Homo sapiens: one gene and its partner. The protein of the gene in region 1 purifies or fractionates together with the protein of each later gene. This does not show direct contact. Each region holds a gene or a part of one and is shown on either strand. Other genes may lie near its edges.

Region 1 (3,310 bases):
TGCAGATACATTTTTGTGTGAGGCAGAAGTGCATGACTGGTGTCACATGCAGAGGGTGAAGGCTTTAGGAGTTACGGAACATCAAAAGCCTTCTTCAGAGTGACTGTCTGTCTCATGTGACTAGCATCGGTCAGTCAGACAGGGCACCCGGGACAATGGGCAGCCACACTGACGCTGAAGTGGAGTGAATCTGAGCACAGCCTCCAACATTCTCTATCTTTTTGTAGAAAACAAAGAAACCCAAGGCAGCAGAGTCTGTTTCAAAACCAGATGTCAGTGAAGGTAAGATCCTTCAAGAGATCCTTATTTTAGCAAAATGCGACTCTAGGGCAGTCTGCTAATATGTTCATGCTTTGTTTTGCATTGTTTTTGCTTTGCCTACTTTGTTTCTTTTACAGAAGCCCCAGGGCCATCAAAAGTTAAGACAGGGAAGCCTGAAGAAGCCAGCCTTGATTCTAGAGAGAAGAAAACCAACTTGGCTCCCAAAAGCACAGGTGGGTCCTGTTGTAGCTACAGGGAGCTGTTTCGAGAAGGCTGGAAACCCAGGTGGCCGAGTCCAGGTTTCACTGGAGTGGGTGGATGGGAAGCCCAAGCCTGTCCTATGTCATGTCTCTAGAGAGTGCACTGAACTCTCTTTAGGGGGGTAACTAAGAAATATTGAACACACCCTCATCAGGAGCCGTGGCAGGAGTGATGGGGTCTGGGCACAAATGCTGGTTGTTTAGATTCCTGTCGAGTAAGTGCTTGGTGCCAAGCAAAAGAGGTTGCGCTGAGAACTGGCTCAGATGTTGCACAGAGACTGTCAGATGGACTGTGGCTCAGGGCCTGCGGGGAATGCCCCCAGTTTCTTTACTCTTGGGGCTTTCATGGGCTCCACGTGTGGCTCTCAGAGTCCCCTCTCTGCTGCCTCTTGACCAAGGATCAGTTTCTCCTAAAACTCACTCTCTGTAACTCAAAGAAAATACCATTTATTTCACAAAAAGAAAAATACAGATTCATTGTTAAGAGTGTGTGATCTTGTGCTCTAAGTAGCATCCAGGGTGGCTGACAGGCTCCCATCCCGGCTCTACATGGGACAGCCACTCAGGTTCCTGTGCCCATTTCCTCCCCTGGAACGCAGGCCCTGCCTCATCAGGACAATCTAAGTCATTCACGGGGCTGGGACCAGTGTCTGCGACAGAGCAAGACAGTAAATGATAGATGTGTTGTGCTGTGTCTGCTTTGCTGGAGTTGGCAATTAAGATGACGTCCGCCAGCACTCACACAGCCAGCAAGAGAACGTCTGGGACAGAGTGACTGATGGGCTTCCCTTCTGAGGATGCGAAGTTTAGAATCATCTTTATCCCAACCCTGACAGTTTTGGCTCTTCATTTTTCTAGCAATGAATGAGAGCTCTTCTGGAAAAGCTGGGAAGCCTCCGTGTGGAGCCACAAAGAGGTCCATCGCTGACAGTGAAGAATCGGAGGCCTACAAGTCCCTCTTTACCACTCACAGCTCCGCCAAGCGCTCCAAGGAGGAGTCTGCCCACTGGGTCACCCACACGTCCTACTGCTTCTGAAGCCCGCACTGCCACCGCTCCTGCCCCAGAAGGTTGTTTAGTTTCCACGTAGGCAGGTCGCTTTGTGCCTCTGAGTGCGCTGCTGTGTGTTCTCTCTATAGTTCTGTGTCATAAAGCTGTCCTGGCCAGCCTTCAAGCTGGTGTGGCCACTCTTGATGTGAGGCGTGTCGGTTCCAGGGGGGACATGGGAGGGGCTGCACAGTGGCCCGAGGTCATGCTTGCTTCCACCTGCAGGTGCATTTGGTCCTTTCCATGGCCAGGAAGCCCTGTGGGCTGCACTTTTTATGCTTGCAGTAACAAGAGACTCCAGAGTCCTCACCGGTGCAGAGTTGGCACATATTAATTAACTAAAATTCTAATGATCTTGCTACCAGCAATAAATCAAGTAGGCCAAGTGAAACTGGGCTTTAAAAAGGATGGATTTCAAATACACTGTGCCCACTAGAAGCTTCGAAGGGCCTCGTCCCTCTGCTACAGCCCTGGGAGGAGCCAGGATCCTTGTTGGTCTAGCTAAATACTGTTAGGGGAGTGTGCCCCATCTCATCATTTCGAAGATAGCAGAGTCATAGTTGGGCACCCAGTGATTGGGTTCAAAAATAAAGCTGGTCTGCCTCTTCTCTCCTCTGTGTTTTTATCTTTTCTACCTTCTGCTCATGCTTGGGTAAGAACATTGCAGCCGTTGCATTGGTGATTACAGGAGTCATTCCATGAAGTCAGAAGAACCCACCCTTCTCTCCTCCAGCAGATGGTAAAGGGAGAATCGTACCCAAAAAGAGGTGCATTTTATCTGCCTATAAGTTGTGTTGACGTCAATAGCTAGTGAAACTTCTCATGAGACTCCTAATGAAGAACCAAGAGCCACAGGCCTCTGCGTGGCTTTCTGCACACGGTGGTATGACTGAGATAGTGACTGGTTCTCTATACAGACCCCGGGGCCCTGGGTTTCCTTCAGAAGCAGAAGGAGCTGTGGGAGGTGAATGGTGGGAGGTGAACAGGCAGGTTCTGTGGGAGACACAGACACGTGGGCAGAACTCCAGGGAGAGGCCAGCAAGGGAGAACCATGTGTGGCCCTGCTTTTTCTCAAACCCTGTGTGGTTCCCGGCTTCACAGTTGATGGGAAGGTTTGGCCCCAAGGATATTTTGACATTGTGAGTATAGAGCATTTTAATAAAAATTAAGTGATGCGTTTTTGTCATGGACTTTTCCAGAACAAACCTGGATTAGCCATTTAATTTCCCCAATTTTCTATACAGCCAAACTCAACCATTTTCTCATTGTTTTTATTTCCCCCTTTTTTTTTTTTTTTTTTTTTAAATTTTGAAACAGGGTCTCACTCTGTCATCCAGGCTGGAGTGCAGTGGCATGATCATGGCTCACCATAGCCTTGACCTCCTGGGCTCAGGTGATCCACCCCCCTCAGCCTCCCGAGTAGCTGGGATTATAGGTGCGCACTACCGCACCCGGCTAATTTTGCTATTTTTTGTAGAGATGAGGTTTCGCCATGTTGCACAGGCTGGTCTTAAACTTCTGGGACCAAGCAATCTGCCCGCCTCGGCCTTCCAAAGTGCTGGGATTACAGGCGTGAGCCACGCTGCCTGGGCCCCCTTTTCTTTTAATGACCATTATTTTTACCAGGTTCGGTTTTCTGAATGTTAGCCTGAATCAGTTTTATTTTGCATTGAATGTATTGACTGTGTCCAGTTTTTTCTGGTAACTGAGTCACAGCATCCTCAACACAAAAATTACAGCATC
Region 2 (3,648 bases), on another chromosome or scaffold:
GCTGGGGCGATGACAGACATGTTATGACACATCCAGTCCGTGTCTGTGCTACTGTATCAGTCTTTCTAAGGAAGTGATGCTTACCGTCCACAGTGCTGGGGCGGGACTAGCCTGAGGAGGGGCTGCTGTGGTCCTGTCTGCAGATCAGGAGGACAGGCTGAAGGACGGAGCCTCCACCCAACCGAGGTTACAAATGCCAACTGGGAGGCATTTTCTTCTGTGACAAAATGTCTCATAAGGAAAGCCTGGAGAATTAGAGCTTACTTACAAGCCTTTGCCACCCACTCAGCGAGGGAGGTTTCTCTCTAGCGGAAGCAGAGTTCTGTAGTTGGTGTCTGTTTTCTGAACATCTCCAGGTCGTAGACATGCCAGAACACAACCCAGGGCAGATGGGCGGAACCATGAGGCTGGGCAAGAGGAGAACCCTGTTCCAGACCAAGAACTCAGTCATGAGTAAGAGCTGCCTCACGCTGGCCCAGCCTTTGGCTCTGCGTGCCCAGGACGCGTGTCTTAGGGTGATGCTGTGGCTTCGAGGAGCAGGCTGGCTTTTTTTGGTTTCGTTCTTGCTTTTGAAGTTCATTCTTTCCTCTCTTATTCATACCCTTTTAGGATGCACTGTGATAGCCATAGAAGCAGTGTGGGTCTTAGAAAGGACACTGGCAGTGCAGTCAGACTCCTAGGCATGGGCGCCTCAACAGAATGAGGCAGTGAGGTTACATTCATCCTTATCGGTTACTTTCCTATTAAGACCAGCCATATCAATTGCTGATGTTTGGCAATTTTTGTCACACAAAGATGGCAATTTCATATGATTCAGCCTAAGTAGATTCTGTTCTAATAAAGTACTAATAGATGCTGAAGGTTTAGGGTAGTTTTCGGAGGAAAATAGTTAAGAAAATGACTATTACACAGATTTCCTTCTTGTCTACTGGGAAAATTCTGCCTTTACTGTATTAGCAGAGGCACCCTTGTGTCTGTCTGGGCGTTCTGTAGCAGCATAGCTGGAGTCACTTGAGTATCGGATCTTTCTCTTACCAACTCTGATGTTCTGTGGATTTGGGGATCTCGAGGCAACTGTGAAATGAGTCAGTAGAGCAGCCCGTTCGCAAATGTCCAGCTTGTTCACATGCAGCCACTGAGGGCTGATGACCTTTGATGACCATGATTGGAACTGAATGATCATCAGAGGTCATCTGTGCAGCTCTTAAAATGCCTCCCATCCTGCCACGTTCCCAGGGCCTTGCCGTTTCGTACATCCTGATTTGCTTTCCAAGGCAGTTTTCTAGCAGCAAAGTGCCCATACTTTGCAATCATGTGTTTGAGGGTGGTGGTGAGAGTCTTGTTTCTGTTACAGCTTTCTGTAGTGTTGTCAGAAAGAGTCAAAAGCCCAAGAATTAGTCTAAACTGTGTTGTTAAGAGCAGGTGACCTTAGCAGATTCATAGAAATAGCCCTCAAAAGACCTGGCTGTGTGGATGATGAAAAGTAAAGCAGGAAGGAGGATGTCTTTGTGAACGCATCATCCTGTGAGATAAAGTTCTTTACATACAGCCCGTTTGTTTTGCCAGGGAAACTCTATGGAGACGCAGACTACTTGGAAGAGAGGCACCGCCACCGATTTGAGGTGAGGATTCCAGCTTGCTGGTACTCTGGAAAGATAGTGAGCTGAGAGACCAGCAGAATTATTTTTCATGCCTCAACAGGTGAATCCAGTCTGGAAAAAGTGTTTGGAAGAACAAGGCTTGAAGTTTGTTGGCCAAGATGTTGAAGGAGAGAGAATGGAAATTGTGGAGTTAGAAGGTGATTATTCGGGCAGTTTTATTTAATGGAAAACTTAGTAAAGTTTTCTTGGCATATGGGAAAATATAAAAATGTTATCTTGTTGCTCCTGACCTAACAGAATTAGGAAGCAGCACTGTCTCATGAGGGAAGGGGTCTTGATAAACATGGGGTCTGGACTCTAGAAACTTCTTTCTGGTACATGGCCTTCCTCGGGGAGCCATTTAACTTCTGGCCGCAGTTTCTCCTTCTCCAAAATGCTTGGAGTTGGTACTAAAGCCACTTCAGCCCTCTCCTGAACCGCAAGACTCAGTCTACAGAAATCCTGGGAGCCAGGGTCTTGGGCGGGACCCTGGACAGGAGGCCTTCAGCCAGGAGGGGACAGCACAAACCGTGCTGAGAAAGGGTATCAGATCACTCATGCTTTGAGGTTCCCTTTATCTAGATTCAAATGAGAAAGTCATTTTCAAATTATTTTAGGGCCTATGGAAACAAACATTTAAGCAGATTTTGTTCTTTTACACTTTGTGCATAACCTTCACAATGAAGCTGTTTCTTTTGAATCTCTATTTCAGATCATCCCTTTTTTGTTGGGGTTCAGTACCACCCTGAGTTCCTGTCCAGGCCTATCAAGCCCTCCCCACCATACTTTGGCCTCCTCCTGGCCTCTGTGGGGCGGCTCTCACATTACCTCCAGAAAGGCTGCAGGCTCTCACCCAGGTAGGCGCACTCTTTGCTTCAGTAATCCATTAGTCTTCTCTAGTCCTTTAGGTGGTCGCTGATTCATTACAGCAACACGTCACAGTCAGTCATAAGAAAAAAAAGCCACAGGCGCCTGGGGTGAAAGTTTCCTCTCCTTTCCCGGAGCTTTCTCACGGTGTTTCCCTGGCATATTGGCCAGGTCCCCCTTTCTGCAGCATCTGAGCTCTGGTGGTGCTGACCAGATCACACTTGGCGTAGGACCCTCTGGTCCATGTTAAGGGGAACTAGTTTTTCCTGGGAAGTAAGCCACAATGGGTAGGTTTATGTCCCATTGCCACCTTTATCCAGAACCAGTACTCAGAGTTGGTGGTAGGGTGTGTGACTGAAGTATAAATGGAATGTATATCTTTTGTAGCTAGAAGAAGGAAATCTTTCTGCAGTTTCATGTTAAATATATTATGTAGCAAACAGTCTTTGTGATTCCTGCCATGTGCAGGCAAGTGTCCCTGTAGGAACCGTGGTTACAAAAACAGGGACGTAAAGTGAGTTTTTGGTGGGAGATGATGCGTAAACCATCTGAATTCTACAGGGACACCTATAGTGACAGGAGTGGAAGCAGCTCCCCTGACTCTGAAATCACCGAACTGAAGTTTCCATCAATAAATCATGACTGATCTTGTAGCGTAAGTGGTACTTTAAAGTTTTAGTTTTTAAAAACATGGTGATAACACACTGCGATTGCAAGAATATCATGGAAGTTTAGGGCTGAAAATTTTTATCTGCCAGGAATGAAAGTGGTGAGGTCTTGAATATAATCCAGAGGTTGAGAGAGAAAAGAAAGTAGTGAGGTCATTGTGGGTATCAAATGGGCAGCCCTTCCTCCAAGTTGCAGTGCACCTCCCAGTCCTGCCCTGGGGATGACAGCTTGGGGAGCATGGTCACTGGGCAGTTGTCTCAATACTGATTACTACATTCTGGTGCCAGTCTGACCAGTTCTGGGGCGGGGAAGGGGAGGGTCTGAATTCTTAGACCCTATTGTTTGATGTAGCTGTAAATTTTGGAGATCTTGAAGGAAGGGACAGATACAACAATGTGGCACTTGTCATTTCTGCAGAGCCTCAGGTTTTCATCAGGAAGTACTTTAAAACTGACACTGCTTAGAGAACTTT

Evidence for each region.
Region 2: the proteins of RTF2 (region 1) and CTPS1 fractionate together in Homo sapiens (co-fractionation; one large-scale study listed by BioGRID). This does not show direct contact.

Annotation. Positions count from the first base shown.
Region 1 is NC_000020.11:56,516,708-56,520,017, forward strand, and holds the end of RTF2 (replication termination factor 2), read left to right. Parts: intron 1-227; coding exon 228-282; intron 283-398; coding exon 399-494; intron 495-1,379; coding exon 1,380-1,558; 3' UTR 1,559-2,742; downstream 2,743-3,310. UniProt on the Homo sapiens protein: Replication termination factor which is a component of the elongating replisome. Required for ATR pathway signaling upon DNA damage and has a positive activity during DNA replication.
Region 2 is NC_000001.11:41,007,093-41,010,740, forward strand, and holds part of CTPS1 (CTP synthase 1), read left to right. Parts: intron 1-356; coding exon 357-453; intron 454-1,566; coding exon 1,567-1,622; exon of another isoform or gene 1,623-1,701; coding exon 1,702-1,798; exon of another isoform or gene 1,799-1,803; intron 1,804-2,352; coding exon 2,353-2,497; intron 2,498-3,068; coding exon 3,069-3,153; 3' UTR 3,154-3,162; exon of another isoform or gene 3,163-3,166; intron 3,167-3,648. UniProt on the Homo sapiens protein: This enzyme is involved in the de novo synthesis of CTP, a precursor of DNA, RNA and phospholipids. Catalyzes the ATP-dependent amination of UTP to CTP with either L-glutamine or ammonia as a source of nitrogen.